4 linked regions of the Homo sapiens genome follow. The protein of the gene in region 4 interacts with the protein of the main gene of each other region in a biochemical or structural test. Each region holds a gene or a part of one and is shown on either strand. Other genes may lie near its edges. The genes, in order: RANBP9, DCN, GLMN and MET.

Region 1 (8,156 bases), on a different chromosome or scaffold from region 4:
AGCAAAGTACCTCACCTCTTATCAAGAAAACAGGAGGCCAGCTGGGTGCGGTGGCTCACACCTGTAATCCCAGCACTTTGGGAGGCCAAGGCAGGCGGATTGCCTGAGGTCTGGAGTTCGAGACCAGCCTGGCCAACATAAAACCCCATCTCCACTAAAAATACAAAAAGTGGCCAGGCATGGTGGTGCGCAACTGTATTCCCAGCTACTTGGGAGGCTGAGGCGGAAGAATGGCTTGAACCCTGGAGGCAGAGATTGCAGTGACCCGACGTTGTACCACTGCACTCCAGCCTGGGCGACAAGAGCAAGGCTCCATCTCAAAAAAAAAAAACCAAAAAAACAAAAAACGAGAGGCCATTAGCTATGGTCATATTCAACTCTCCACTCTTTTATTACAAAGTGATCTATGTCCACGGCAGTCTTCACCTCTTCCACTATTATCAAAGAACAGTCTGTACTCTCCTCTCCAAGACCAACCATTCTGGACTCTGGAACCAGTTTCCTCTCTAGAAGCCTCTCTGTCAGCCTCTCAAGCTTGTATTTCATTATCTTCCTCTCTAATCTCTCCTTCCCCTCAATCTGTAAAGGGACAATGTCCCCAAAATGTACACTTTTCACAAATTCTATGCCTCCGTGCTACATATAAATCATTGTCAGTAATGTACCAGAGTTGGTGGTATATAATTTTTTACCTTAAAAGTAATAACAAGGCTGGGCGCAGTGGCTCATGCCTGTAATCCCAGCACTTTGGGAGGCCAAGGTGGGTGGATCACTTGAGGTCAGGAGTTCGAGACCAGCCTGGCCAACATGGTGAAATCCCATCTCTACTAAAAACATAAAACTTAGCCAGGCATGGTGGCGGGTGTGTGTAATCTCAGCTATTCGGGAGGCTGAGGGAGGAGAATTGCTTAAACCTGGGATCCGGCCTGACAAAGCGAGACTCTGTTCAAGAAAAAATAGTAATAATAACCAGGTAGGCTAATCAATTTTATTTGTTAAAATGTTAAATTTTGTATACATTTCCTGGAACACCATACCTTGGACTAATATAATATAGTATTTTCATTTAATTTATGTCGCTTCAGTTTTACCTATACAACCAAATTAAAACAAGATTGACTAAGAAATGACACAGTGGTCTCTAACACAATACTTTCCAAAGGAATTTTTAAGGATAATTTTGGTTATGTAGGATTTTCATCTTCTATGCTGACATTAGAAGCTAAACACCAGGTAAAACGTAACTCCACTATCAGCCGTTAAAAATTAGAAGAAAAAAAAAATCCTACCTTAACCTCCATCCTCCTCTAGGAAATGCCTCATCTCTTCCTTCATCTATATTTCTCAAGGATAATCTCTATTCACTATCCTCTCTACTTGGTCCTTTCATTTACTCTTTCAACCCACTGAAATCTGGTTTTTGCCCCATCACTCAATTCAAACTGCTCTCCCTAAAGTCACAATGATCTAATTTCCAAACGTAGTGGAAAACTATCTGTGCCTATCCTACTAAACCTATCTGTTGCAACAGACACTAAATATCACTTCCTCATTTCTAGGGAAGGTGGGGAGGCTGTTTGAGACAGTGTCTCATTCTGTTGCCCAGGCTAAAATGCAGTGGCATGATCACCGCTGGCTACAGCCTCAACTTCCTGGGTTCAAGCAGTCCTCCCACCTCGACTTCCCCAAGTTTTGGGATTACAGGTGTGAGCCACTGCACCCTCCCGTGCTCAGCTTCTGTGACACCAATCTCCTTGATGTCTGGGGACCTACCATTTCTTTTGTGCTCCCTCTAGTCTTTCAATGTTGGTGTTCTTCAGGGTCCCCATCTTTGGCCCACTGCTTTTTCTCACTCTATTCTCCCTCTCTCTTTCAAATACTCTGAGTTTCAACTACCACCTACAAGTGACTCCTAAATCAGTCACGACCTAGACCTCTCTCCCAAGCTTCAGATCAATTATGGTTAACTGCCAACCCTTCCTAGGAGAAACTGCCTCACACATTGCCCCTACCGAAAGAAGTGAGACCCAGACTATCCTTGTACCAGCAGGGTATTTTGTATTTTATAATTACCACCATTCCTACAGCTGATTCAACACAGGTTAGCACCTGACTTGAAGGCCACCAATTCACAACATAGTCTGTATTGAAAAGCTCTGCCCAACTAAGAATCATAGCAATTAGCCAGGCCAATCTGTTAAGTCTCTCAGGAATTTGACATAGGAAGGAAAGGATAAGCCAGTCAGTAGGGAAAAAGAAATAAAACAACCAGAAACTAGTGATTGGAGCTGAGTCATTTTAATAGAATAGAATTAAGTCATGACTATTAAGACCAGTTAGAGTCCCCTTAACTCCAAAAGACCTGTTCCTGTTCTTTCTGTAAGGCTTGTTTCTTTGGCTTCTTCTGGTTTCCATGAAGTCAGATCACAGGGCTGAGATTCCCATTTTTACTTATCTCCAACTATACTGTAATACAGTCTCCTTCACAATCATTATTTTATTCATGGTTCACTGCAAGAGCCTAACAGCTAAAGACCCAAACATCATCCTAACAGAGTTGGAAACCCAAACATTTTCTTTGATTTCTCTCACTATCATTCCTCATATCCTCTCAGTATTACTTTTAAATATCTCACAAATATATCTGCCTTTCTCTGGCCTTACCACTGACCCAGCTGAGGTCAATTCTAACATGGTCTACTGCAATAGTCTTCTAAATGAATTTACTATTCCCACTCTTGTAACCTCTTGAATCTATCTTCCAATCAGCTGCGTAATCTGACAAAAATGAAGATATGAGCCAGTCACTTCCCATTTAAAATCCTTTGATGATTCTCCATCTCCTACAGAATAAGATCTAAACTCAACAAAATATTCCATAGGGCTCCTAACTGGGCCAGGTACAGTGGCTCCTGCCTGTAATCCTAGCACTTTGGGAGGCTAAGGCAGGCAGATGGCTTGAGCTCAGGAATTCGAGACCAGCCTGGGCAACATGGCAAAACCCCCTTCTCTACAAAAAAATACAAAAAATTAGCTGGGAATGGTGGCACGTGCCTGTAGTTGCAGCTATTCAGGATGCTGAGGTGGGAGGATCACTTGAGCCCAGGAGGCAGAGGTTGCAGTGAGCCTAGATCGCACCACTGCATTCTAGCCTGGACAATGGAGTCAGACCCTGCCTCAAAAGAGAAAAAAAAAAAAGCCTCCTAATTGATCTTTTCCCAGATGCTCCTTGTCACATACTCTAAATGCCAACCCAAAATTGCTTGTAAAACCAGACACATAAAGTAATTCTCTATGTTTTTGCTTTTCCTTCATTTGCAACACCTAGCCCCTCCCTTTCTCCTATATCCTACTCATCTTTTAAGACTGACCACTAGCCTCGACTCCTCCAAGAAGCTATCCCTGATACCTACACTTCCTTCATTCTTTCCAATGTCAGCCTGGGTTATACGCTCCTCCTATTTTCCACAGTACTCTCTATAATATTTCCCTTACTACTCTATTTTATGTCCTCTGAGCTCTCTGAATTCAATGACAGTATCTTCTCCACCTCTGAGTGTCCAGAACCTAGCACAAAGTAAACATTCACTAAAAGCTCATTAAATAAATGAAGAAATGAACAGTGAAAAACACATATAAATTGTCTAGTCTAGCAGAATATATATCATTAGGCTGGGTGCAGTGGTTCACGCCTATAATCCCAGCACTTTGAGAAGCCAAGGCAGGCGGATCACTTGAGGTCAGGAGTTCCAGACCAGCCTGGCCAACATGGCAAAACCCCATCGCTACTAAATATACAAAAATTAGCCAGGCGTGGTGGCAGGCGCTTGTAATCCCGGCTACTTGGGAGGCTGAGGCTGGAAAGTCACTTGAATCCAGGAGATGGAGGTTGCAGTGAGCTGACAAAGTGCCACCACTGCACTTCGGCCTGGGCGACAGAGCAAGATTCTGTCTCAAAAAAAAAAAAAAAAAAAAAAAAAAAAAGAATATACATTATTATTGTCTACTGTTCTGCATGATTATTAGATTTACTTGATTCTTGCAGTTACCAACTGGCATTTTTAAACCTAATTTCCCAAAATCTTGGCAAGTAATTCTTCAATTCCTTCATTTTAAGGAACATTTTTAGGCCGGGCGCGGTGGCTCACGCCTGTAATCCCAGCACTTTGGGAGGACGAGGCGCGCAGATCACAAGGTCAGGAGATCAAGACCATCCTGACTAACTCGGTGAAACCCCCTCTCTATTAAAAATACAAAAGAAATTAGCCAGGCGTGGTGGCAGGCGCATGTAGTCCCAGCTACTGGGGAGGCTGAAGCAGGAGAATGGTCTGAACCCAGGAGGCGGAGCTTGCAGTGAGCGGAGATCGCGCCACTGCCCTGCAGCCTGGGCCTGGGCGACAGAGCAAGACTCCGTCTCAAAAAAAAAAAAAAAAAAGAAACATTTTTATATCACCCCCGTAATGCTTAACAGACATTTGCACTTGTAAGCAAGCATGCTGAAATATCTGTTCAAACTTAAAAAGTGCAAGAAATTAGATAAGCAATTATATTTAGGAAGTGTTCAAGCGCTAATGACTGGGGGTACAGGTGGGAAAGACAGAGTAAGTATAACAAAAGTTCAACCTATCACTCCTGTAATCCCAGCACTTTGGGAGGCCGAGGCGAGTGGATCACTAGGTCAGCAGATAAGAGACCACCTTGGCTAACACGGTGAAACCCTATCTCTACTAAAAATACAAAAAATTAGCCGGGCGTCGCGGCGGGCACCTGTAGTCCCAGCTACTTGGAAGGCTGAGGCAGGAAAATGGCGTGAACGCGGGAGGCGGAGCTTGCAGTGAGCCGAGATGGCGCCACTGCACTCCAGCCTGGGCAACAGAGCAAGACTCGGTCTCAAAAAACAACAAAAAAGTTCAACCTATTTGGTTATTGTTCATAACATTTCAATTAAAAAGTGAAATTCTGGCTGGGCACTGTGGCTCACGCCTGTAATCCCAGCACTTTGGGAGGGCGAGGCGGGCAGATCACGAGGTCAAGAGATCGAGACCATCCTGGCCAACATGTTGAAACCTCCCCTCTACTAAAAATACAAAAATTAGCCAGGCGTGGTGGCGCATGCCTGTATTCTCAGCTATTCAGGAGGCTGAGGCAGAAGAATTGCTTGAACCCGGGAGGCGGAGGTTGCAGTGAGCCAAGATGGCGCCACTGTACTCCAGCCTGACAACAGCAGAGCGAGACTCCATCTTAAAAAAAAAAAAAAAGGACAATTCAGGCCAGGCGCAGTGGCTCATGCCTGTAATCCCGGCATTTTGGGAGGCCGAGGCGGGCAGATCATCTGAGGTCAGGAGTTCAAGACCAGCCTGGCCAACATGGTGAAACCCCGTCTCTACTAGAAATACAAGAATTAGCCGGACGTGGTGCTAAGCGCCTGTAATCCCAGCTACTCAGCTACTCAGGAGGCTGAGGCAGAAGAACTGCATGAACCCAGGAGAGGCTGCAATGAGTAGAGATTGTACCACCGCACTCCAGCCTGGACGATAGAGCAAGACTCTGTCTCAAAAAAAAAAAAAAAAAATGCAATTCACTATTTATTTACTTATTTTTTTTTTAAGATAGGGTCTCACTCTGTCACCCAGGCCATCATAGCTCACTGAAGCCTCAACCTCCTGGGCTCAACCAATCCTCCTCCCTCAGCCTCCTAAGTGGCTGGGATTTCAAGTGTGTGCCACTTAGCCCGGTTAATTTTTAGGGGTAGAGACGGGGTCCCACTATGTTGCCCAGGCTGGTCTAGAACTCTTGGGCTCAAGCGATCCTTCTACTTTGGCCTCCCAAAGTGCTGGGATTACAGGCGTAAGCCACCACACCCACTGAAATTGACTATTTCATTGCTTCCTATAATTCCCAACTTTGACTTACCTTGGATTTCTTCTAAACTGTTCTAAATTAGTAAAATCAAGGTGTCTGGACTTTTCTGAAGCACTGTGTTCCAGTTACCTTTTTCCCCCAGAGTAAGTATTTTCAATCTCAACTATTCTTTAAAAGTTCTAAATGTGATCACAGGATTTTATCTACTTGAGATAATTAAGTCTCATATGAACTTAAAGAGGCAATACTATGGGATTGTGAAAAGAACACTAAATCTGGAGTTAGTGAAAATTTTCAATCCTGATTTACTCATGACTGGGAAGATCTAACCTCCAGGTTCTACCACTCTCTAAAATTTAAAATGAAAATTCCAGGATCTTGTCCAGATCCACTAGTGTGTGTATATATAAAGCACTCTATAAAATATCCAAATAGTGGTAATAACTAGAAAAATATAAAAATGCAATCTGTTGTTGAAACATTTAAACTAAGTCCATTGTCATATTTATTAAAATTATTTTCCCGTTATCATTATAACTAAGTCTAAACTTGTCACATTTGTACTTATTCAATACTGACAACAATTTCAAAAATAAGAGGGGCTATCCCTGGGTTTTTCAATAGTTGTTGTGTGACTGCTAAGCAAAAGGCCTTTAAAAAAATTTCACATATACTATACATACCCTGTTGTTCCTCTGCAATCCAATCAACCTTATCTGCATGTCTAGTATTATCTAACATTAATCTCTTCAAATCATTTCAGGAACAATACTGCTTCCAAAAGCAGTAATTTCAATTTAGAAGAACATCTTAAAAACAGAATACAGGCTGGACACAGTGGCTCAGGCTTGTAATTCCAGTACTTTGGGATGCCAAGGTGGGAGGATCACTGGAGCCCAAACATTCAACACTAGCCTAGGCAACACAGTAAGACCCCATCTCCACAAAAAAAAAAATTACAACTTAGCCCAGCATAGTGACAGGAGCCTGTGGTCCCAGCTACTTGGGAGATGGAGGCAGGGGGATCCCTTGAGCCTAGGAGGTCTAGACTGCAGTGAGCCATGATCGCACCACTGCACTCCATCAAGGCAACAAAGTTGAAATCCTATCACACACACATACACAAAAACACCAGAACAACAACAAAAAACCAGAATACCTTTGGAGCAAAAGAAAGCAAAATACTTCTATTTCAAAGATAAGGAAAATTCTCGTCACTCTGGAAAATAATTAAAATCATTCTTTTGAAATTCTGTAATACGTGAATATATGAATAGTAGTTTTTACTGTTAAAAGTGTCTCATGATACTTAGGTAAAACCAATGCAGCACAATGATAGGTTAAATAAAAATTCACTCTTCTTATTCTGTGATTTTAAAGTATTATCTACTCTCTATGATACTTCTCCTTTGCTACTGCTACTGCTACTGGGACACAGTTGCCCACCACAATCGGCGTGGTCCTCTCACAAAACACGCAGAAAATCAACAGTAACAACGGAAAACTCACACACACACACACACACACACACACAGTCTACAGTAACAAGACAAGAGGAAGAGGCAGTAGAAAGGGAAAAAGACTTTCTGACAAGGGGTAAGAGAGAGACAAAGGAAAGATAGAAGAGAGGAAAAATAAAAGGATAACAACAAAATCTGTTCTTCCAGAAATAATGATTTATGTTTATAAAACAGTTATGTTCCCAGAAAGTGAACCTTAGTATTACACAACAGAAAGTAATAAAGAGGCCAAGAATAAAAACAACTGAGACAGCAGTGTCAGAAATATTCCAAACTCCAACTAATTTCATATAAACGTGTATTTTTCTCTGACCTAATCATCAATTTTATGTAAAAGACTAAAACTAATCAAGACACCTTACAGTACTAAATAAACAGTAATCACGAATCTTAGACATCACGGAAATTCAGAGCTGGAAATTTCCTTACCAATCGTCCAGCTCAACTTACACACCACTCAGAGGAAGAAACTGAGGCTCAGTCTTGTAAAATATCTACAACCACAAACAACTGCAGAACTCAGGAAATCTAGAATTCTTTGTTCATCTACACTGGCTCTGACTTTATGAGCAAATTATTTACTGTCAACCATAAATTTAAAATTATAAAATTCTGTCACATCTAACAATAGCTTTCTGGCAGCCAGATCAGAAGTAAACACCTCATAACATAGCACCGTTCACACAAATTAAAACATAAAAGTAGAAATACTTCACAAGGAAATTAACAAAAGGTCCTAACTTGAGAAAAAACAAAGATTTGATATTGTGAATG
Region 2 (8,829 bases), on a different chromosome or scaffold from region 4:
GTCCCTCACTAGACGATGTACTCCTTCAGGGCGTGTCTTATTATTCCTTGTTCTGTACCCGGGCCTTGCACAATATTTTGCACACAAATGACTCAATTGACCATCACTTTATTGACAAGACGATTTATTCCATTTGTTCCAAGCAATCAGTCTGATTTTTTAAAACACAAAATTAGCTTTTTTTCAGTATCGAATTTCTGATATAAAAAAAGCAGATTGAAAACCTCAACTTGGTATAAGCAAGATCGGCTTTAAAAAATAAATCAATTTCCTAGTTTCTCAAACATTATGTTTAATAAGCTAATAAACACATATGGAAAATTCTGATTTTTATGTGATGTATATATGATCTCATTTTGCTAACAGGGCATTTTGTAAAAAAACAAGTATTGTTTTGATAAATGTATTCCATATTTATCCATTCATTCCACAAGCACGAATCTATGTTGTTAAATCAACTGAAGTGCACTAAATAAATCTGAGTGACAAAATCGTAATAAATCTGAATAACAAAAGTACTTGATTATATAGCAGCAAAGTCATTTGGGAGATGAAATATTTTTTAAATTGCATTGAAACCATTCTGATATCTCCAAAACATAGTAGATATTTAGTCCCATCATAGCAGATATTTAGTCCCATCATCTCTACCTTGAATTGTACACTTAGACGAATCCATATTAAAGCTGTACGTTCGTAAGTAGAATCTTACAGCTGTTTTGAGTCATTATCCAATTGTAGCATATTAAAAAAAAGAAGAAAGAAAGAAGGAAGGAAGAAAGAAAGAAAGAAGGAAGAAAGAAAAGGAAAGAAAGAAAGAGAAAAAGAAAGAAAGGAAGAAAGTGAAAGAAAGAGAGAGAGAGAGAGAAAGAAAGAAGAGAAGAGAAAAGAAAGATCTTTGTATGATCTAACCTTAAGGTATCTTCTGGGAATTTTTGCCTAGATTCTCTAGAGAAGAAACAAATGTTTTTCAGTTTCTTACATGTTTGTTCTTAGTTTATATTTACTACTGATATGTGTCTAAGGCAGCACATGTTGAATACAGGCTTGTGGCTTTTCATTTAACAAAATATCATAAAGATTATTATTCACACTGCCACTTTAAGTTCAACATTAAGCTTCTTCTAGCAGCCCACTCTCATTCAGTTACTGAGTATCCCTTTAAGAGAAGACTTTTGTTTTGGCAGCCTGTTCCTTTGGATTGTATCTGAGGGAGTGGTTTTGTATCTGTTTCCCATTAAAAATGCAATGTTTATGGTTTACCACAAGCTTGCTAGCCTTGCATATTTAATGTCTTACAAGTTTAAAAGAAAAATGAAGCAAAGTCATTGCAGATTTAATAAATAGCAACGACAGTTAATGCAGATGTCACTTTGAAATCTTTTCTCCAGAGCAGAACATGCCTGGTTGTTTCACTAACAACCCACAAAAAGAAAATGTTGAGTATTAGCTGAGAGAAATAGTATTATAATTTATGTTTGTTTACTCCTGTTAAAATGGTACAAATTCTCCAAACAATATTCTTTTTGATTGAAGCTGAATATAGACAGGCAGCTTATAACTTCAATCACCGACCTTTATTTCATTTTCATTTGCTCGTGTGTGTGTGTGTGTGAGAGAGAGAGAATGTATGTGTGTGTGTTCATGTGTGTGTGACAGAGAGAGAGTGTATGTGTGTGTGTGCATTTAACCCTGACTGTACTGTGAAAAAATAATTGCATGTCCAGAAACTTTGTGCAAAATCTTCCATAAAATCATCTGTTTTAAATTAGTGTCATGGTACTTCAAGACCCAGCATCTTAAAACATTTAATGTGGGCTGTCAATACTGATAATTCCTTTCGTCATTTCCTTCTTTCCTTAATTAATCAGAAATATAAAGAGCAAAGAGCAGCTGTCCAAGTAGTAACCAAAGAGATTGTTATTGAGATGATATGCTGTTTAAATTATACTGAAACTGTTTTAAGTAGTCTAAAAATGCATGACAATGTCCAAGATGCTAATTACTAATGTAATATCACTACTCCACTGAAGCTAGTTGCCATAGTTTACAAATGTTTTACCAAAAATAATAATTTCTGGTTCCTAAAACTAGTTAAGCCCATTAAATGAAGTATGTCATCCAGATCAACATTTGCATTATGTTATCTATGCCTCTGGTGTCACTTTCAAAGTCAAAATTTAACCCTCAAGAGATAAGTGAAGCTATAAATGCAAAACAAAATTAAAATCCTACAGCACTAGATGATTAAAAACTTCAATTATAATATATGTAATTTTAAAATAAAGAATAAAGGCGGCATTTATCCACAAACAAGGGTTACTATAGGAGGCATTTGGCTCTTTTCTGGTTAGAAACAGCAACAGGAAAAAAAAAAGCCACAGGTATTTACATCACTGGGAGCCCACTTAATCAGTGGTCACTGTGTTACCCTGTTTTAAAATTAGAAAATTAACCCACATCCTCATTTTATAGTGAATGTATCTTAAAATTTCACTTGCAGTGAAGATACTGACTGGGACACTTTACATTTAAGAAATTATACAGCGTTTTTAGTATCTTAGGCATTTAATAACATAAATATTTTCAATGTTTATTTTCACTTCTCTGGTGATAATTTCTGTTCATTTCTGGGGTTGAAGAAATATACATTAGGTATTTTCAGCTAATCACCAGAGTTCAGTTCTTCTGGGCTTTTAAAAGTCCTTAAAGCAATCAAAAATTCAGGAGAAAAATACATTTTTTAAATATATAGGTCAATTACAGATATGCTACTTCAGAATACTTTTCGGTTACCATCTCTTGAAGAGCTAAACATTCATTAATACAAACACAAAAACATTAATATAGAGAGTCATGGTGTTAGGTTACAGTTTTTTAAGAAGCATCTTTGCAAAAACAGAAGAGAAAGAAATAAAACAATGCATTCAATCATTTTATCAAATATTTAACTTCTGTTTTCAAATAATACTTGTTTAAAATGTTGCATAAAAACTATAAAAGTTTAACAGTTTTTTTTTTCCTTTTCTTTTTCTCACCAAATAATCCCTTTTGCTCGCAACTTGACCGAAGTTTTATTAGTCTGTAGCAGAGTTCAGGACAATTATTGAAAACCATACCTTTTAATCCGGGAATTTGCCACAGGAGCCCTCAAAGCTGAGATGTAATTACACTAAATATTCAGCCCAAGTAAAAGAGTTTGCAGGTGTGGAAAGGAGGAGGGGGTAGGTGCTGCTCTGTGACTAGGTTGAAAACCTCCTGCTTCTACTCCATAGCACAGTTAAAAAATAAGGTTTCCCTCAATGAACACAATCCGGCTGACACCCACATTAGATCATATGGTAATGATATGTCTCTTGTATTGTAGCCAGAAACTTTATCGGCCTTTTTTTTCCTCCCATTTGCTTTATTCTTTTTGCATCTGCTTAAGATTCTAAACTGCTTATGCAGTATAGTGGAGCAACTTGATTTGAAATTTGTCTTATTGTAGATTCATTTCCCTAAGATATTGTAACTAAAGGGTTTGTTTCCCCACCCCCCATCTCATTTCATTCTCCACCCTTTCTAGCCTTGTTTACAAGTAGCATTTATTATACTTCCAAAATGACATTTTTTTCTTGCTTTTGGGATGTGTAAGTCCAGAAAAATGGAATGAAATTAATCTTGTAGTTGTTTTAAATGTGGACTGCAAAAATAAATGAGTAGCCTTATGTGAAACTACTCATTCGGATTCCTACTTGCCTTGGAATGTTTGTGTAAATTCAAGCACTATGCTGTGGAGTTTTTCTGTATATTTTGGACATATTTCTAAAGTGTCCTGAAAGAAAGTCATGGTTTTATATGAAAAGTATGTCATCTATCACTTTCATTAATCATAGTTTAAAATCTTTCTCCCTGTCCACCAGTTTTTAAATAAAATACATAGATAACCTGTAGTTGATCACAACATAGTTTCATCCTCTATATATGAAAAATTTGATTTTCATAGATTATACTTTTATGTAAACTAGAACTTTGAAAAGGCAATAGAGTCTATGTGTCTTTCCAAATTTCAGTAAATGAAAAGAAAAACAAGTGCAACTACAAGGAAAGGTATTTATTTAGCCACTGGAAATCTTTTTTGAGCTTTTATAATTCCCTTGCTGGATGCTGTTAGTTGTCTCTGTGTAGGTCTCTGTGTTTTGACTTGTATCATTATGCTCTGGCCCCTAGGCTGTTACCAGGTGGAAACTGGAAATCAACAGTTTGAAACATGAGATGATCCCCCTCCCATCCTCCAGCCTCCTTCCTTCCCTCCTCCAGCCATCAAAGTATATTCTTCCACAGTAAATATTCTTTTTCCTCAAAAAAACTTAGAGAAATTAAATTCTCAAGTGGTATCTAAGGAGGGGGAGGCGTGTTACCACGTTATAGTTTGCCTTATTTCCTAAGCCCAGCCTCTCAGATAAACAATTTACCCTACTCTGCATCTCCTTAACATTTAATAACCACATATCTAGTTATTCTGATAGTTTAGACAAAGGCAAGCACTATTGTCCCTGGACATTGGTGCAAAAGTCCATGATCCCCTTTACTTGGAATTTATTAATTTCCTTTCTGAACTCTCCTTATATGGCATTTATCTCTTTTTGATGACATATAATCACTCCTGCCTCATATTATAATTATTTATGTACGTGTCTTACTCCAAGGGAGGAATGACATTGTGTTCATGTTTGTAGAATCCCTGCACCCAGAATAGCCATGGTATATACTAAGTTACCAAGATACATTTGCTAAATTAGTAAAGACAATCAAATGATTGGCTATGGACCGTACCCGGACTGGTGTTTTGCCCCAATCCTGGCTTACTGTTTATCAAAACTTAACCCTACTAAAGTGTATATGACAAATTATGGCCATCATTACAAGACAGAGAGAGAGAAAAGGAAGTATTAAAGAAAAAGTAGAAGAAGAAAAATGAGGAGGAGGAGAAAAAAAGACATAATGCCTTTTTATGTAGATAATTTTACTTTTATAAAAGCAGAACCATTATGGTTAAGATTTAGATCTTGTTCCTTCCCCCCGATAGTAAGCTATATGAACTCAGGCAACTTGCTTAACCTCTCTGAATTTCAGTTTCCATATCTGAAAAATGGATACAAATTCTTACCTAACTCATAGTGTTGGAGTGGAGATTAAATAAGGCAATATATATAAAACACTTAACTCAGAACTTAATCCTTATAAGTGAAAATCTCTGTAAATGCAAGCTTTTATTATGTCTTGACATATTTCAAAACAATCCTTTGAGTTAGACAAGATAAGTCATATTTACTATTTCTGTTTTACAAATGAGAAAATTGAAGCCCAGTGACTTGCCCAAGTTCACAGAGCTGGCAAGAAACAAAGCAGAAACTAATATCCAGGTCTTCTCATGCCTAATCCACTTTTCATTACTAAACTATACTAAACTATAATGTATCTTAAGAAAGAGGAAGCAAATTCTTACATATAGAAAAGTAATTATCAAAGTTTTGAGATAACATCTTTTCAGACTATTTTACAAACCATGACCAAGTTGCAATGCTTTTAAAACTTTATTTAATTTGTTCAGGAACAAATAAAAATTTTCTTTTTGTTGTTGTTGTTTGGAAAGAAACTCACCTCCAAAATCTCAAGCATTTTACCAAACATCATCATATTTAAAAGCTGCATCTTTAATCACAAGTTACATCTATCGTCATACTCATTTTTCAGTAGAAGAAACTATGTCCCAACAAAGTCATACGCAGTTAAGTCACCAAGAGGTCATGACACTATGACCAGAAACCAGGTCTCTTGCAATCCAACATGAAATGGAACCATTTTAAGACTAGAAACAGCACTGTGCACAGATTGCTTAAAGTCATTCTGGCTTGGAATGTTTGGGGTAGGATTCCCTGAATCCCTGGCTGACATATAGATATGTGAAATATTCCAATTCAGAGCACATCCCACATCTACTGTTAAACTACTTAAACTTTGATTTCTACTGACAACCCACTAGCTAACAGGGTTAACTGTATTCTGCACATTGTCGAAGTTCATTTCAGGGCCATTCTCTCTCATTGACATCACATACAAAGTATTTAATTGTACCTGCCCATTAAGGATATGAAGAATGCCAGAGCTTAGAAAGGTCTCCTTCTGACACCCCTTTACTTTCTAAGAGGTCTAGAGGCAAGTGATTATCTTCACAATCCTGATGTGACTGGTTTGTCTGTAGACTGACTCTGCAAAGTCAGATCTGGGTCTGGTGTGAATTGTCTGGCTCTGTAGTTGCCACTGTAGACAGAGTTCTTCCCTAGCCAAGAAAGATGACTAGCGTGGAACTGAGGGCACTTTGAATACAGAATAGCTTGAAAGAAAATTTGGTGTAGACAACTTTTACCTTGGCTATCTTCCCATGCCTCTATTCCTCCATCCCTTACCATTGTGTTTGGTGTCCTGGTACCTTGTACAAGTAACTTAACCTCTTTGTTCTCCAGGTTTTTAACCTATACAATGTGAGTAGCCACAGTGGTATCCCCTTCATGAGTTTATAGTGAGGTTCAAAGAAGTTTAATACATAAAACATTTAGAACTGTGCCTGACACATCTCAAGCAACACTTGTTGCTTCCGCTGCTGCTTCTCTTGTGTTTTTTGTTATTACAAACTTTACCTTGGACACTCCAGTACAATAACCAGACTGCACATCTTTTATAGTCCAGTGGATTTTCTGCCTAACAACAGAAGAAATCAGCTAAGCTATGATATAGTTTGGAGCTAGATAAGCTTTCGTTTAAGCCTTGACTTTGTGTTGTTACATAACAGCCTGGCTTTCTTTATGCATAACATTTTATTGGGCTCCAAGTCCAGCTGAAATCCATTCATGGACTTTATAAGGAAACAGAGACTCCAGGTTAAGAATTTCTACTCTGAGCAGTAAAGTAGAAATGGGAATAGAGACAGGGAAAGGATAAGTAATGAATTAAAATAGATTAAAAAGTATCAAGGAGATATTCAGTTCCTTAATTTCCTGACTTTTCTTGAATGCTCTGGGGCATCTCTTTTGTCAGTTGTAATTAATTAAAAGATTAATTATTATTTCCATAATATTGATTAGTTTGTACTTGGACAGTAAATCAACACTTATTGAATATCCATTAGTCTGCACAAGGTACATACCTCTCTGTTAAATACAAGGAAATTTACAATAACTCATCAATCAATTAATCAAAAAATATAGACTGAGGAACCACTGTGGGAGGAAGTGTTATACCAGGCCCCATGGAAGATACCAAGAAATACAAAGTACGATGTGAAGGGCATAGCCTCAAGGGAAATATGTTGCATAAGGAGATATGGCATAAACTATAGATTTGTATAATAATATTTTAGCTTTAGCATACCAGAAAACTTATAATGTATAATTCCCGGCCAAAGTAAAGTATGATGTAATTAAAATAATTGTCTTAGAAAGTCAGAGAAGGGATTGAGGGATGGATCACTTTACATTTGAGTGGTTAGGTAAGTGTTTATAATGAACAAGGTACAATTTGAGCTAAATCCTGAGGGATGAAAAGAATATGCATGGAGAGAAAAGAAAGAAATGGCTTTTTATGTTGGCAAAATGACACTAACAAACCTTGGCAATGGGAAAGCAGAAGACAATAAATAAATCAATGTGGCTTAAGCAGATACTTTCTTTCAAAGAAGCCTTGAGTTCCTTTATTTCTTTGAACATTCAGTAACTCTCATGGTATCTGACATGTCAAAGTCACACAATAAATTAATGTCCCATGTTTATGGAAATAACTAAAAGGAGATAATGAAATAAATGAGGGTAAGGTCTAACTGTGGAAGGACTTGAAATTCTCCCATGGAGCACTTATACATTTATTCATTCATTTGTTCATCAAATATTAATTTGTTGATGAATATGTGCCAATTATTATGCTTGAATCTAGATGTTATCAAAGGTAATTGAATGAGGTAATAACATGATCCAATTATTATTTTAGAAAATCAAATCTAGCAAGCACATGTAGAGTGGTGAAACTAGAGTCAAGGAAACTAGTTAGAAGGTTGTAGTTTTAATCTCAGTATATTAATATCTTAGTAAGGGGAAGGAAGATAGATGAGCATGGCGAAAATAGAGCTACTTCTCAGGAAGATGATGTAATACATTAAAAAGAAAAGTTTGGAGTACTCATTCTGCACCAGGCACCATGGTACATAGTCAATTTTAAAAGCACAAATAATGTGTGATGAGGCAGCGTACTCTGAACACTGCCCTCTGCACCACTCTAACCAACACTTCTGCCATTGTAAGTGATAGCAGGAAAAGTTGACTTCTTTGTTTGCATTTTCATCTCCAAGGATGCTTCCAATGGAAAGGAAGAACAAACAAAAATGATTACGTTAACTAAACTTCTTGATGTATGTGAAAATTATAAGAAATTACTCATTCTATGTGAGTTCAACTTTACTTTTAGGGTACTAAAATAATGTATCGTCTTGAAAGGGACTCTGGTCTGAGCAATGCTGGAGAATCACACAATCTGAATTATAGAATGACAGAAAGAAGGAAAGGTTCATATGGAATTTTCCCGATTGGCTGGTTTTTCACATGGGAAAGGACCTTGTGTTGAATGAAAGCTTCTTGCACTGAGTGATGGCAAAAATTTTGACATTTTACAGATGAGGTGATCTTTGGAACTGCGTATACTGGGAGTGAGGGAAAACTACAAAAGAGAATGATAAAAGCCAGACATTACCTGGAAGACTCCTTCCTGGGTCCTGCTCCTGCCTTTTTGCGTGTTAGT
Region 3 (8,156 bases), on a different chromosome or scaffold from region 4:
TTAATGCTGCCTTTAAAGCAAAACAAAGCAAAACACAGAAAAGATTTCAGCTGGAGGTAGCTTAGGAATATTTAAGACCAGGTACAGTGGTTTGCACCTGTAATTCCTGTGCTTTGGGAGGCTGAGCTGAGAGGATTACTAGAGGCCAGGAGTTGGAGACCAGCCTGAGCAACATAGTGAGACCCTATCTCTACTAAAAATTAGCCAGGCATGGTGGTGTGCACCTGCAGTCCTGGCTAATCAGGAATCTGAGGTGGGTGGATCACTTGAGCCCAGGGAGTTGAAGCTGCAGTGAGCCACAATCATGCCACTGCACTCCAGCTTGGGCAAGATAGCAAGACCCCGTTTCTAAAGAAGAAAAAGGAAAGAAAAGAAAATTTCAGATCACCTTAAGCTGCATTTCAGGAGGCATATTAGGGATCTCTTCTCCACTTACAGTTATAGAACAAAGATCTTTAGATTTCTGGGCCTCTGTAAGAGAAGAAAAATCATGTGTGACACTTAACTCTCAGATTTCAATAACAAAGGTATAAGCTACTTTCATTCACTAACTTAAAACATGTCAGTTATTTGTATAAATTATTAAGTCCATTGTTTAACAGCTCAGGGTATACTTAAGCTATAAGCAAACAGAATGAAATATCAAAATTCTGCAACATGTAAATTAATGCTTCTTTAGATAAATAGCATTATTTTGGCATGTATAGGATTCATGAAACTGTTTTCTTCAGTATATAATCAGAATTATAGCCATTATACTAAAAACAAAATTTCCGGTAATGCCTATAAAAGCACCACCACAGATATACGGAAGAGATCACACGATTATTATAGAATTATTGACTTAAAAAAATTCTGGATCTAAGATTCTTTTCATAATTTGTATGGATTTACTTGAGAGTGAGATGGAGAGTGGACCCAGCAATACCAAAGGAATGGTACCCAAACGGAAATAGCTGTAATACAGATTCTTAATCAGACCTTGAGGCTTTACAATGTAATATTTGGTTTAAGTCTTCATTAACCCGATTTTAGGTAAATTAGCTTATAGATCTGCTAAGAATTTTAACTATAAATAAAATGGCTTAGCTGTTATGGTCTCTAAAGTACAAGATTTTTAAAAAGTTCTTAAATTTGAATATGACAGTTCCAAAATTAGACTACTTTTTAGACCTAATTGAAAACAAAATTGCACATTACCAACCTTGGCTATTTTTAATTTCTGCTTCATAATGTGCTTTTGACATATTAAGTCCTATATGAAGTGGCTTTAAGAAATTATTCTCAATATTTCCAAGTTCTGTCCATAATCCAGTCTGTTAAGAATGAAAGAATGAGTTATTTAGTTCAACAATGATTGATTGCCTACTATTAAACGCGATAAAAGCTCAAAAAACAAAAATAAATGAAACATGGCCCTTGCTTTTCACAATGGACTTCACTATTTAATAATTATTACTATAGCTAGTTATGTGAATACCAATTAAAAGAAAAATGTACTTGGGGCACTACGCTTATCACTGCACCATTTGGATAGCTCCAGGTTTTGAGATCTATTAACTTGTTAAGTTTTATTTATGAGAAAATTATTTGAGGATAAATTCACAGACGTCTCTTCCTCTATGAGCCATCTCCACAATGACTCTACCTTATTTATGCCTTCATCCCAAGTATGGCCTTTCAATTGATATCCACACCACGGATCTAGTTCTAGAGGATGCTTTCCCTTTCCTACTGATGGAAACTTTTCTAATACCCGGCTAATTTGAACCTCCCTGGTGACCAAAGTAGGTGAAGATTTTATCTGTTGAGGGCAGCTTATTTTGTCATGTATCTTAGAGTTTATTCCAAGAGCATTTTCTCTTACAGTACTAATGGAGAGGACTCATGAAGTCTTTATTTTAAAAAATAGAGAAAAGAAAATCCATTGGTACTTCCAGTTTCCAAGTACTCTTTACAAAGGAAAATGTCTTAGGTCAAAAAGGGAAACGTAGGGACCCAATTTATTCTTAACTAGAATAATGAACTACTTGATAACCTATTTTGTAATGAGCTTATTTTGACCCAAGTAGTACATGTTACTTGCAGCATTCCAAATAAAATCTACACATGTCTATGCTGAATAATTGATAATATTAATGTCTCACACCTATCCTTTTCATTTCAGTCATCTTGTCTTATTTATCCTATACTAATAGGAAAAGTAGAATACTAGAGAGGATCTAAAACCCTCAAAAATATGCATACCTTTTCACTTAGCATCTATCAACTTATCTTGGGGAAATAAAGATGTATGTTATGATTCTACTGCAGATGTTTTTTAAAAATGTTTAGTGAAACATTAGAATTAAAATAACTCAACAGGAGATTCATAGTAAATTATGACATATTAACATAATGGAAAAACTATACAGCCATTAAAATACTGTTTTTCAGTACATATTGGTGAATGGGAAAAAAGGTTATAAAACAGTGTGATTCTTTTAGTATGATCTCATTTTCTTTTTAAAAAAGAAAAAATGTACAGACGTATTAACCCAAAACCTAGAAGGGAATACAGTATATCAACAACGGTGTAATTTTGATTACTATTCTTTTTTTTTTTTTTTTGCTTCTTTATGTTGATTTTTAAATAATGGATGTTTTAGTTGTATAATTTTTAAATTGTTAAGTGGAAAGTTTTCTTAACCTCTAATGGCAAATTTGGGTTATATGCAGCAGGAATTTCCTTAACCAGTGTAGCCACACAGTATAACAAGCATATTACTCTTATGTGCACTGACTGCTCTCATTTCTCCTATTTTTACCTCTCTCTATCCAGCCTTTTTCTTTTACTGATACATGATATTTTACATATTTATGGGTACATGTATTTGTTACACGTATAAAATGTATAATAATGTCAGAGTATTTGGGGTATCCATCCTCTTGAGTATTCATCATTTCTATGGGTTGGTAACATTTCCTGTCCTCTCTCCTAGCTACATTGAAATATACAATATATTGTTGCTAATTATAGTCACTGTAATGTGCTATCAAGCAATACAGCTTGTCTTTTATCTAACTCTTTTTGTACCCATTCACCAGTTGCTCTACATTTCCTCCTCCCATGCTCACACTCTGGTATCAATCAATCATTCTATATTCTGTATCCACGAGATCAAGTTTGTTAGCTCACACATGTGAGAATATGTGATACTGTCTTTCTGGGCCTGGCATATTTCAATGTAATGACATGTAGGTCCATCCACGTTGCTGCAAATAACAGGCTTTTATTCCTTTTTACGTCCAGCCTTTTCTTCACCATTTATTCCCTGCCCCCCAACTTTTTTTTTTTCTTTTTACTTTGCATTCACCTCTGGGTTTATAGGCAGAACCCACTGCAACTGATGGCTTTCAAGACTAGGTTACTGATGACTCTCTGTTACCCACTAAAGCACATTTGAACATAAAGAGTATAGGGAAAACACCTAGCTTTGACAAAAGGAAACCTTTGACAAAAGGAAACATTTTATCATATTTACTTTTAAAAAATAAATACTAGATATGGCTGAAATCCCCTTTATTCAAGAGGTAGCCATTATCTAAAACTTGAATGTTTTGCATTCCTAATGTATCACTTAAACAATATAATTTTTCATGTTTAAAAGCACATAAATGGTATACTGTATATAACCTGCTTCAGCTTCCTTTTTCTTTGTCAATCTTATGTTTTTGAGAGTTATTTGTGTTGTAGCTCTAATTTTAATTGGTGCATAAGCATTCCATTATATGGAATTTATCCTAAGTTTTTAGTATTTCAAAATAATGCAGCATTTACATTGCTGTATGTTTTCCCATTCACACGGGGTAAAAGTTTTTCTAGGATACTGTTTTTCAAATTATTTTTGCCATGACTCTCAGTAAAAACTAGGTTTTACATCACAACTCACACGTTTATTTATATAGTTGAAATAAAAGTTTTCCCTCAAATCCTTTCCATATAACACATTTAATCTTAATACTTTAATGTAGAAAAATGGAGAATAAACAATTCAAAAGTAAACATCAGAAAGATTTTTACATAATCAGTGTGCTTGCCTGTTCATGAGGTAATTTCAGTCTAATTCACTATTGAGCCTAGTTCTTTTCTTTTTATTATTTTTCAAAGTCAGGTTTGTTGAGATATTGTTTACATACAGTAAAATATAACCTTCTAGCTATACAATTCTGAGCTTTGACAAAGATATATAGTGATATAAAGTCATGTAACCACTGCTGCTGTAAAGATATTCCCATGACCCAGAAATTTCTTTGTGCCCCTTTGTAGTCAGTTTCCTCCCACCTCCAGCAACCAGCAATCTGATTTTTGTTAAGGTAATTTTTGCCTTTTCCAGAATGCCATAAGTGGAATTAAAACTCTTTGTGGCAGAAATTGACAAAATTCTAAAATTTATACAGAAAAGGTAAAGGATTTAAAAATAGCCAATACAATTTTGAAAAAGAAGAACAAAGTTGGCAGACTCACATTACTTGAGGTCAAGACTTCCTATAAAGGAATAAAACAGAATAATTTCTTCCTATAAAGGAATCAAGACAGTGTGGTATTGGTAAAAGAATAGATACAGGTAAATGGAATAGAGTCCAAAAATAGACCCATACTTATAAAATGATTTTTGATAAAGTTGCCAAGATAATTCAGTAAATTAAGGATAACCTTTTCTACAAATAGTGTTGAGGTCAAAATAAAAGAAAAAAAAATCTCTCAACCCATATCTCATATCATAAAAAGTTTACTTGAAATGGGGTCATTGACCTAAGTGTAAAACCTAAAACTATACAATTTCTACAAGAAATTACCTTTGTGATCTGGGTTAACAAAGACTTCTTAGAACCCATAAATAATGAATCATAAAAGAATAAAATTGATAAGTTGGACTCCATAAATATTAAAATTTCTGTTCTTTGAAAAATACTATTAAAACACAAGCCACAGACTGGAATATTTGCAAAAATATAACCAAAGAATTTGTATCCATGAAAAACTTTCCTCTTGTAGAAGTTCTAAGTTGAAAATTTTTTTCTTTCATCCTTTCAGTTTTACTTTGTAATGGAAATTCTTTTAAATCTGATTCCCAAAACTTTTTTTTTTTTTTTTAAGATGGTGTCTTCTTGCTCTGTTGCCCAGGCTGGAGTGCAGAGGCATGATCTGAGCTCACTGCAGCCTCCACCTACTGGGTTCAAGCAATTCTCCTGCCTCAGCCTCCAGAGTAGCTGGGATTATAAGCGTCTGCCACCATGCCCAGCTAATTTTTTTGTAGTTTTAGTAGAGATGGGGTTTCGCCATGTTGGACTGGCTGGTCTCTAACTCCTAACCTCAGGTGATCTGCCCGCCTCAGCCTCCCAAAGTGCTGGGATTACAGTGATAAAGTTTTATAATCATTCATTGGTACAAATATACAATTAAGCTTCACTAATTCTCTTCAGCCAAAAATTTTAACCAAATTACTAAATCAGGACTTTAAAAAGCAAATGTATCTCTAACCAAACGTTTTCTTTTAATGTTTCAAATTTCTCAAATGGAAATAATCACATATTAATAAAGAGTACTGGCCCAGCGCAGTAGCTCATGCCTGTAATCCCAGATGGGAGGATCACCTGAGTACAGGAGGTTGTTATTGCAATGTGCCGTGATTGCGCCACTGCACTCCAGCCTGGGCTATAGAGTGAGACCCCAACTCAAAAGGAAAAAAAAATTAATATAAATTTAAATAGTCACATGTGTCTACTGTCTACTGTATTGGACAGTGCAAATCTAGATCTTTGAATGTTAAAACCTTAGCTGTTTTCAATGGCAATAGCCCATAATCATAAAACTTCAGGTAATAAAAACACATGCCAAAAGTAGCCTAAAGAAATTTTTTACATATTCTGTTCAGCATAATTCCACAAATTTTTCAGATGATAAACTGTAATATTTTTAGAAGCATGTAGGAGTGAAGAAGCTGTGAGAATAAGAATATTTTTTCTCTCAAGGTTACCAGATCGTTTTTAAAGAAATAATAAATACTACAAAGAAAATCACATTTTAAGATTTCTTAAAATCTTTCAGTGTCTAGAAAAAGTAAATTAAGAGTTTTAAAATAGTTATAATTAAAAATTTGAAATGTTCACAAATACCTGCTTTTAATTTCATACCCAAGGAGGCTTACTGATTTCCAGTTCTAAGGCTTAAAACTATACATTTCAAAATTCACTGTAGCATATCTCTCTCACAAAAGGAAGACTAGGCAGTTCTACACTACAATGAAATTTATTGCCAGAACAGTCAGGAACCCTGCAAAGAATACAGTCAGTGATGGTAATGAAGAAATAAAAAGCCATGAACAAGACCCAGGTTTCCCCTTTCTTCTAATTCATATAGAAGTCATCCGGCTCTGCAAATATTTCATGGATATGTTTTATCTTAGAGAAAGAAACAACTTACACAATATGCCCCTGTACCAAACCTGCACCCCTGAATCTTAAATAGAAATGGAAATTGAAAAAAAACTTAAGCTCTAGATTCCTCCTCTCTCTGGGCAGGGCATCTCTGAAAGAAAGGCAGCAGCTCCAGTCAGGGGCTTATAGATAAAACTTCCATCTCCCTGGGACAGAGCACCTTGGGGAAAGGGTGGCTGTGGGTGCAGCTTCAGCAGACAAACATTCCTGCCTGCCAGCTCTGAAGAGAGCAGCAGATCTCTCAGCACAGCGCTTGAGCTCTGCTAAGGGACAGACTGCTTCCTCAAATGGGTCCCTGACCCCTCGTGCTTCCTGATAGGGAGACACCTCCCAGCAGGGGTCAACAGCCACCTCATACAGGAGAGCTCCGGCTGGCATCTGGCGGGTGCCCCTCTGGGATGAAGCTTCCAGAGGAAGGAGCAGGCAGCAATCTTTGCTGTTCTGCAGCCTCCAATGGTGATACCCGGGCAAACAGGGTCTGGAGTGGACCCCCAGCAAACTGCAGCAGACCTGCAGAAGAGGGGCCTGACTGTTAGAAGGAAAACTAACAAACACAAAGCAATAGCATTAACGTCAACAAAAAGGATGACCCAAGCAAAAACTCCACCCAAAGGTCACCAACAGCAAAGACCAAAGGTAGAAATCCACGAAGACGAGGAAAAAGCAGCGGAAAAGGGCTGAAAATTCCAAGCACACGAACACCTCTTCTCCAAAGGATCACAACTCCTTGCCAGCAAGGGAACAAAACTGGACAGAGAATGAGTTTGATGAACTGACAGAAGTAGGCTTCAGAAGTTGAGTAATAACAAACTCCTCCAAGCTAAAGGAGCATGTTCTAACCCAATGCAAGGAGCTAAGAACCTTGATAAAAGGTTAGAGTAATTGCCAACTAGAATAAGCAGTTTAGAGAAGAACATAAATGACCTGATGGAGCTGAAAAACACAGCACAAGAACTTCGTGAAGCATATGCAAGTATCAATAGCTGAATCGATCAAGTGGAAGAAAGAATATCAGAGATTGAAGATCAACTTAATGAAATAAAGTGTGAAGACAAGATTAGAGAAAAAAAGAATGAAAAGGAATGAACAAAGCTTCCAAGAAATATGGGACTATGTGAAAAGACCAAACCTATGTTTGACTGGTGTACCTGAAAGTGATGGGGACAATGGAACCAAGGTGGAAAACACACTTCAGGGTATTATCCAGGAGAACTTCCCAACCTAGGAAGACAGGCCAACAGTCAAATTCAGAAAATACAGAGAACACCACAAAGATACTCCTCGGGAAGAGCAACCCCAAGACACATAATCATCAGATTCACCAAGGTTGAAATGAAGGAAAAAATGTTAAGTGCAGCCAGAGAGAAAGGCTGGGTTACCCACAACGGGAAGCCCATCAGACTAACAGCGGTTCTCTCTGCAGAAACCCTAGAAGCCAGAAGACAGTGGGGGCCAATATCTTAAAAAAAAGAATTTTCAACCCAGAATTTCATATCCAGCCAGATTAAGCTTCATAAGTGAAGGAGAAATAAAATCCTTTACAGACAAGGAAATGCTGAGAGATTTTTGTCACCACCAGGCCTGCCTTACAAGAGCTCCTGAAGGAAGCACTAAATATGGAAAGGAAAAACCAGTACCAGCTACTGCAAGAACAACCCAAAATGTAAAGACCATCG
Region 4 (8,219 bases):
TCCAAACTTTGATTTTTAAAAAAAAATTCTATTATTTCATAGCAAATAGGATGATTTTGAAAGCGTTTCTCATGTGATGTCCTCTTAATAATTATGAATTTGTGTTCATTTAATATGTGATATTTGTCTGTGTATCTAGATCATAAACTTCTCAAGGGCAGATTCCATTTCTTTCTTTTAAAGAAAATGCTGTAGTACCTAGCACATATGATACTCTACCTATAGGTCCTAGCTATTTTTGGTCAGGCAAATGTGGATCTAGCAGCAACTCAGTGTCAGTTGAGAACACATCATCAAAGTGATTCTGAACTAACATTAGTCAGTGTATCTATCATTTATTACTGAGAAGTGACTATTTATTTTGCACTGAGCAAAACCCATGAAGAAACTCTGCCCTAAGGGCTTGGTGTCAAAAACACTAGTTTCAGCATACACCAGCCAGGAAAAGAAGGCTCACTTCCGGACACTTGAGTTTCTACATACATTTTCTCCCCTTAAGAGGGCACAATGAGGAAATTGAGTATCCTATGAATAAACACAGCAGACCAAGGAAATCTTAGGGATTTAGACCACGGAAAAGAAAGCGTAGATGGCTCTGGCGAGAATCACTAAGCCTAATGCCTAAAGAAGAAACGAGCAAACTGGGCTGGAGAAATGGGGGCACGGAAGGCCTTGAAAGCAGCTCTGACCAAACCAAGGGAAAGGGTTGAGGAGGAAGAGGACAGAGAAATGGGAGGTAATCTGAATGTGTGAGGAACTGTGCTCACCATGGGGGTGTTGCCATGTCTTTGGTGCAGCCACTTGGAGAAAATAAGCCAGTTAGAGGATGTTAGCTCCTCTGAGTTATTCACGTTGTTTTGAGATGACCACATTTGAGAAAAAGTTAATTTGAGACTATTATGTAGATCTGCAGAAGGATAATATGACTAATGCTACTTCAAACACTATTTTAAAAACAGCTAAGGAAATTGATTTTTGAAATGTATTTCTTAGTCTAGCCCTCATTAAGACAATTTTTTTTTAAAGATTTCAAGATTAATGCAAGGCATATACTTACATAGTCTTAAAAGGAATTTATAAAATATGGGTATTTCTCCTGCTTAGCAAAGGGTCATTTTTCTCTATTATAGGTTTAAAAGTAGTGAAAATATTAGTTATGAGCTTTCGTATTGACTGGCTATGATTAATCTGGTACATTTTTTATCATGAAGATAAACTCCATCAACTAATTTTGAAAGCATGTAGTATACATCTAATGTAAACCCCTACTGCCATGTATCAAGAACAAAGCAATTTTGAAAAAGCAGTAGTCGGCAGACTGTCTTCTATATGCCACAAATTCCATCATGTTAAAAGCAAAATATATTTAAGTTAATAACTATAGCTTATACACCATTAAGTTTGAAAACGGAATAGAATTTTTAAAACAGCAGTACATTTTATAGGCTATCAGACACATTTTTGTACTACCAAAATTTCTTATGAATGATGTAAATTTTCCCTCTGTTATTCAGCAGTTCAAAAAGAATGAACATTGAATACACCACAGACTTGCAAATGATAGGAACCAAAGTACCTCACTTATGTTCCATTATGGAAGTTTACACGTTCAAAACAAAGCTCAATTAGCTTAGATCAAGGAAGGAAAGCTATGTACCTGTAAATAATCCAAGCACCACTTACACTGTTTACATAAAAATGCAATTTATGTCCCTGTAGCACAGAGAAACATGATGTACATCATTTTCAGATCATCTTCATGCAGAAAAAATTCATTAGTCAGCTATAATAGTTTAGCTGTAAGGGAATATAATGTTTTTCTGAATCCATTTGCATGGCAATGTGCATGTGTCTGGCTGATGAAAGCGACAGAATAAACCCCCACCCAAAGCTACAGAATGTGAACAGTCTTCTTAAAATTCAAGAGAGGGTCCAGATAGTCTATATTGCCTCCAACGTCAGTTCTTACAATCCTCTCACATTCATGGACCATCTTAACATAGCAATTAAAGTATCTTGATTATTTTGCCTAAGAGAGTTGACAATATTTCATTCTGCCCGAGGGCTCCTTTGAACATAAAACTGTGATAAGGTAAAATACACTGGGCAACTATTCATGCGTGAGCCATTGGAGCCCTCTCCAACTGCCAAATTAGCAAATGGCTCTTTTAAAACATGAAAGATATGAATGGGAAACCGTACTTCGGAGTAAATTCTGCATTGACAATAGTCAGGGAAAGTACTTTCACTGGTGCTTTAATTATCGGGTCAGCACTACGACTGGCCACATCGCTCAGCCTCTGGTTATAATCTATTTCACCTAATAAGATAGATGTCCACCACAAGCCCCAGAAAGAGATAAGGTACGATGGAAAATTGATGGATCACAAGCCCCGCGTGATTGCCAGAAATGAATTCAGACTTTCACAGAAACACCTGCCCCTTGGAAGGACCCCAACATAACACAGATAAAGCAAGGCTGGGAACAAGGAAACAGCTCGGCTCAAACCTTGCCAGCTGCATCACGGTGGGACGAGGATGACCGGATCCCTTTTGTAAGGGCTGAGTCAGATCCCAGCTTTAAAACTTGCTGGGCCGTAACAGTCACACATCACCCACTGTCCCAGCGCCCCTCTCCCTCCTAAGTCATACAGGTGGCCATCAGAAGCAACCCCCTAAAAAGACAAGCCCCATTCTAGTTTCGTCCTCGCCGTGGCCACGTCTCTTCAGTTTCCGAAGCCCCTAAACTCTAGCCCACCTACGTGGTTTTGCCCCCTGGAACAGCAGTCAGGTCTCTTAGGGGAACAAAGAAAGCAGAACCCCTGAGGCGAGGGATTGGGTACTGGATCTGAAAGGGGCTGCAATTTTACCTTTCGGTGCCCAGGAACCAGTGGAGAAGTCAGCGGCGCAAGGACCACACGCGCGCTCCGCGCCTCCCCGCCTCCTCTCAGCAAGTCAGCTGTCGCCCCGCATCTGGCTCGCGCCCTCCACTCGGCTCCGCATCTGCTCACAAAGCGCTCGGGGCGCCGCGGGCGGCGAGGGCCTCCGGGTCACCTGCGGCCGGGCTGAGCCCAGCGCCCCGCCCGCCCGCCGGCCGCACTCCCTCCGCCCCTTCCCACACGCGCGCTGCCCTGCCAGTGACTCAGCCGGGCATCGGCGCGCGCGGCCCGCGGCGGCCCGGGCGCGTTGGGGCCGGAGGCACCGCCAGGCGACCAGACTGAGGCGCTCGCCTGCCCGCCCCAGCACGTGTCTGTCTGCCTCGCGTGCTGTCCGTCCCCTAGTCCGCGGGTTCCGAGGACCGCTGAGGTGGGGACTGGCACCACCCAGAGGGAAATCGGCCCCCGCCCTTCCTGCCGTCCGCGCCGCGCCTGGCCCCGCGGGGGTCGCGTTTCCTCCCGCCTCTGCCCCGCCCACGACAAGGTGAAACTTTCTAGGTGGAGAAGTTTTCTCGCCCTGGCTGCGCGCTCTCCTCCCCCAGCTCAGGCAGTCTGAAGTTAGCACAGCCGGAGATAAGCGGGACCGAGTCTCCCCCTCCTGGCGCTTGGGAGGCGAGTGTCACCCCGGGCTCAGATGCAGGGCGCGCACCCTCCTGGCACCCCGCTCGCTGACCCCGGGAAGGGCGCGAGCTTTGCTCTCGGCCTCTCCCACGTCTCCGCTAACCGCCCCGCGCCCACCCGGGTTTAGAGAGATTTGGGCACCGCAGAAACAAGGAGTTCATTGTTAGAGGCGGAGGTAGAAGTGGATGGACGAATTGTCCCAATGATTTCATTATGCAACGATTATCCTCTACTATAATAACTCAAATTTCTGCAAGGAAGAACAACAGAGGAGTTTAACCCTGAGGAGACTTCCATTTCTTTTTTTCTTTTTTTTTTTTTCCATAGCCGGAAGCAGGCTGATTAAATAACTGGGCAAATAGCGATGAATAAGCACAACAGAACAAAAGTTTAATTCTTGAATGTTGAAATCTTATGATGATTTTTAAAAAAGAGCTTTTGGGGCCTCGGTGAACTCTATTAGGAGTAATTGTGTTGGGATAACTTTGTATTTCGCTATAAAAATTGGCACCTACAAGAGTAAATGAACACTCAAAGGTAATAGGATCTAAGGAACGGGCATTGCCGGTTAGAACTTGAGTTCGTTCCGGCTCTCATACCAACTTGTTCAATCATGGCAATAGATAATGAGACATAGATATCTTCGTTATTGAAAGTCATGGGTTAAAATAACAGTTACTATGCAGGTTCAGTTCTTATTTACTACAGAATGAAACATAGAAAAATGTAGTAAGAATAGTTATCATTTCCCAAGTGCCAGGCACTTGGAAATGATAATGTAACCAGAGGTTACATAAGAGTGATTTCAGTCCTCAAAAGAGATTACCTCTTGATTCCCCAGTTTTATGGAAAAGGAAAGTTCCCATTACGTTACTAAAGTCTTGCATTGAACCATTTTGCAGGTAAAGAAACTGAGTCCCTAAAAGTTCCCAGGAGAGTCACATAGCTGGTTAGTAAGAGGGGCAAAGTTAGAACTTAGCTTTCAGCCCAGTCAGGTGTCCTTCACACCATACCAAGAGGCCTCAGCAGGCTAAATAAACAACGCGGCCTGACTGGAGATTTCCTGATACGGCATGGCATAATTTATCAATGACTATAGCTCATTAAAAAACACTAATTTACTGGTAATAAGGCACTGGGCCTATTTATGGACAGATCAATTACAGATTTTGGGTTCAGTAACAGCTTTCAATAAAAGATGAATAAATTAATGAATTTAAAAAGTTTTACACACACACACACACACACACACACACACACACAGAGCCATAGTTGTCTAAAGGAATGATTAGAGTGCTGTTTCTATTTCCTGGTTTCCATAGCAATATGTTAACTGGATTTTTAGATCACATTATGTAGTTGCCTTAACAGGTTTTCTGAGTTTGAGTGCCATGATAAAAATATAAAAGAAAAAATTTACAATTAAAGTTGTAGAAAGACCCAGAAAAGCCAATGCAAACTGGAAAATAAAATAGATGATAAATACAAACAACCCGTTGTGTATTTTCAGCACTGAAACTTTCTAGTTTCTAATAACTAACAAAATTTCAATCCAGTTTTGAAACTGTATTGAAAATCATCATTTCATTTATCAACTGTAAATAAGGAGATAACATTTTATGAAATAACATAACTAACAATAGCATAACTAAAAGTATCTGGGTGTGTGAAGGTCAAGTAATTTTTACACACTACCTAGACAGATTTGATTGGGAAAATGTTTACAGATAATTTCAGATTTTTGGAAATGAATGGAAACAGATATTTTAAAAGGTAATAGGAGTTCTATAATTCAATTTTGGTTTTGCAGCAAACTTTTAATTGTTGCTATTTAACTTTCCTTGGGTTCATGTCATGGGTGATACACTGTATGATGAAGTTCTGTTGGTATTTTCTTAACCAAACCAAATCTCTTGTGGTCCACACTGTTGGCTGGCTAAGCCAGCATCTGTTCCCAACGAGATTTTCCTGTTCCTGCCTCCACTCTTGGGGCTTGAAAAGAGAAATATTTGCTTTCCCAGACTCCTTTGCAGCTAGACATGGCCATGTGATGTCATTCTGGTAATGAGGTATAAGTTGAAGTCTGATGGGGCCTTGTGGGAAAGGGTTTAAGGCTGGTGCCACCCCTTTTCCTTTCTTGCTTCTTGATTTCATATATGATGCCCAGTGAAGAACTAACCATCTTGTGACCAGCATGCAGAAGTTGGTGCTGACATTGCTGAGGTACAGCCCTACTGCCAGTAGACACCTGCTTCCAGATTTCTTGTTTTGTGGAAAAAAAACAAAAACAAAACTTGTTCTAGACACTGGTAGCTGGGACTTCTGTCACCTGCAGCTGAAAGCAATTAAAACTGATAGACCCCTCAAATTGGGAACAACATCTCCAAGACTGAGTTGAGCATAATAGTTAAGAGTTTTAGAACCAAACAACCTGGATTTCAATCCCAGCTATGTCTCTTGCTAGCTGTGTAGCTACAGGCCAGTGGATTAAACTCTCTCGTGTCTCATCTGTGAAATGGGGATCATGATAGGGTTATTGTGAGGATAAAATGAGGAGCTACAAGTAGAGCACATGGAACAGTGTCTGGTAAAATATAAATGATCCAAAGGCATAAGCAGGTCTTATCCATCCACCTGTGGATAACATAATGTTGAACTACAAACAGGATCCCATCTCTTAACTTTGAGATGGGTCTAGTGATAGCTGTGACAAAGAGACAGAGGAACAGCCACCTCCTGCTCTAATATGCTCTATCTTTTTTTCCCTCCCTTTAACACATTAAAATTTGGGTCTTTGAAGGCACTCTTGAAGTTGGTGCTGTTTTTGAAATAAAAATGAAAGCAGTCTCCTAAGAATAGGGGCTTCATGCTTGCAATGTATGGTGAATAGGGCCCACAGACATATACAGGTGCACAGAATGTTTTTAAAAGTGTGAATTGAGGTAGAAAGACCATATGATCTGCTGTTTGCCATTGACCTACCATCTTCTCTTGGGTTGTGTCTGGCCCACCTCTGATCTTGATTTCACTTTCTCCTGTAGGCATTAGGATCTGTGATCCCTGCCTTAAAGAGTAGTTACTCTGGAACTCCTTCTTTCACTCTGTTTTTCCCTTCCTCCTGCCCCATCACCCCTATTATTGTGCCTATGGCAAATGTCTCTACAAAAAGACAATAGAAGAATTCAGGTAATGTCACCTAATGTCATTTCTGAGCACAGATAAAATTTGGAAATGTAGGACTCCTATTACCTTTTTAGAGCTATGTCATGTATGTTCGAATGTTGAAGGTTTTGAAAATTCATGTGATAAAACAAAACAGCAAAACCGAACCAAAAACCAAAAAAACCCTTCTTAACTTTGCTTACCCTACCATCTCCCCAATTTAATTGACCACAAAATGCTTTGATTTTTCTTAATATCTTCAGTGTCAATTTTCTATAAAATTAGTTTTATAGATTATACATTTTAGGAAACTTCGCGTTAAAAATGGAACTGCCAGCTACAGAGGGTTAAAACTGGGCACTTTGGATATGAACTGCTTTTATGTTGATTTGTATTGGTCATTTATGTGTGGCTGGGCTGTCTAAAAATAAATATGCAATGTTAAGTTATCTAAAAATATGACTGAGCATACTTAATATTGAGGACAAGAACAAGACTGCTAGGCTACAAGCTAAAGTATCACAATGTTAATTAGAAGACCTAGGAAATTGTAGGCAGAAAAATTAAGAAAAAATTACCGTCTCCAACAGGGTGCTGCAATTTTGTTAGTGATTTGGTTCATTTTCACATCCAGCTTATGACCTCTCTCCTAAAATCAGGCAAAGGTATAATGTATTTAGCTGTCACTTATTAAATGTGTACCATGTATTCATCATGAGTCTGGAGCTCTGCTTACATCCTCATTAAAAGAACTCCAGAATAGGTATCACCCTTCTCGGTTTACATTGAGGGAAATGAGGCTCAGAGAGATCATGTAACCTATCCAAAGTCACACAGCTGTCTTAAGTCTGTGTCTTTCCAGAATGACTGCACTTCCATTATAATTATTTATTTATTTATTTTAATTGAGATGGAGTCTTGCTTTGTGGCCCAGACTGGAGTGCGAAGGTGTGATCTCAGCTCACTGCAACCTCTGCCTCCCAGGTTCAGGTGATTCTCCTGCCTCAGCCTCCTGAGTAGCTAGGATTACGGGCTCCCGCCACCATGCTAGTTTTTGTATTTTTATTAGAGACGGGGTTTCACCATGTTGGCCAGGGTGGTCTTGAACTCCTGATCTGAAGTGATCCACCCACCTCAACCTCCCAAAGTGCTGGGATTACAGGTGTGAGCCACTGTGCCCGGCCTCTGTTATAATTATTTTAAATTGTCTCCGGTTCTGTAGTGAATGATGCAGTCGTTTAACTGGGAGCAGTAGACCTATTTTTTTTAAGCTTTTATTTTAGGCTTAGGGTTACATGTGCAGGTTTGTTATACAGGTAAACTCGTGTCATGGGGGTTTGTTGTACAGATTATTCCATCACCCAGCTATTAAGCCTAGTACCCAAAAGTTTTTTTTTTTTTTGAGAAGTAGAACTTAAGGCACTCTTTCATTTTCCTTCTCTGTCTGCAAAGTCAGCCACAACCTAAGGCATGGCCACTTCTCTGCTGGCTTGATCATTG

What was found.
Region 1: the proteins of MET (region 4) and RANBP9 form a complex in vitro, tested with the Homo sapiens proteins (one study listed by BioGRID and IntAct).
Region 2: the proteins of MET (region 4) and DCN form a complex in vitro, tested with the Homo sapiens proteins (one study listed by BioGRID).
Region 3: the proteins of MET (region 4) and GLMN form a complex in vitro, tested with the Homo sapiens proteins (one study listed by BioGRID).

Annotation. Positions count from the first base shown.
Region 1 is NC_000006.12:13,701,452-13,709,607, forward strand, and holds part of RANBP9 (ran-binding protein 9), read right to left. Parts: intron 1-8,156. UniProt on the Homo sapiens protein: May act as scaffolding protein, and as adapter protein to couple membrane receptors to intracellular signaling pathways. Acts as a mediator of cell spreading and actin cytoskeleton rearrangement.
Region 2 is NC_000012.12:91,179,536-91,188,364, forward strand, and holds the start of DCN (decorin isoform a preproprotein), read right to left. Parts: upstream 3,283-8,829; 5' UTR 3,120-3,282; intron 1-3,119. UniProt on the Homo sapiens protein: May affect the rate of fibrils formation.
Region 3 is NC_000001.11:92,246,674-92,254,829, forward strand, and holds part of GLMN (glomulin), read right to left. Parts: intron 1,317-8,156; coding exon 1,205-1,316; intron 472-1,204; coding exon 389-471; intron 1-388.
Region 4 is NC_000007.14:116,667,229-116,675,447, reverse strand, and holds the start of MET (hepatocyte growth factor receptor isoform b preproprotein), read right to left. Parts: upstream 3,253-8,219; 5' UTR 2,871-3,252; intron 1-2,870. UniProt on the Homo sapiens protein: Receptor tyrosine kinase that transduces signals from the extracellular matrix into the cytoplasm by binding to hepatocyte growth factor/HGF ligand. Regulates many physiological processes including proliferation, scattering, morphogenesis and survival.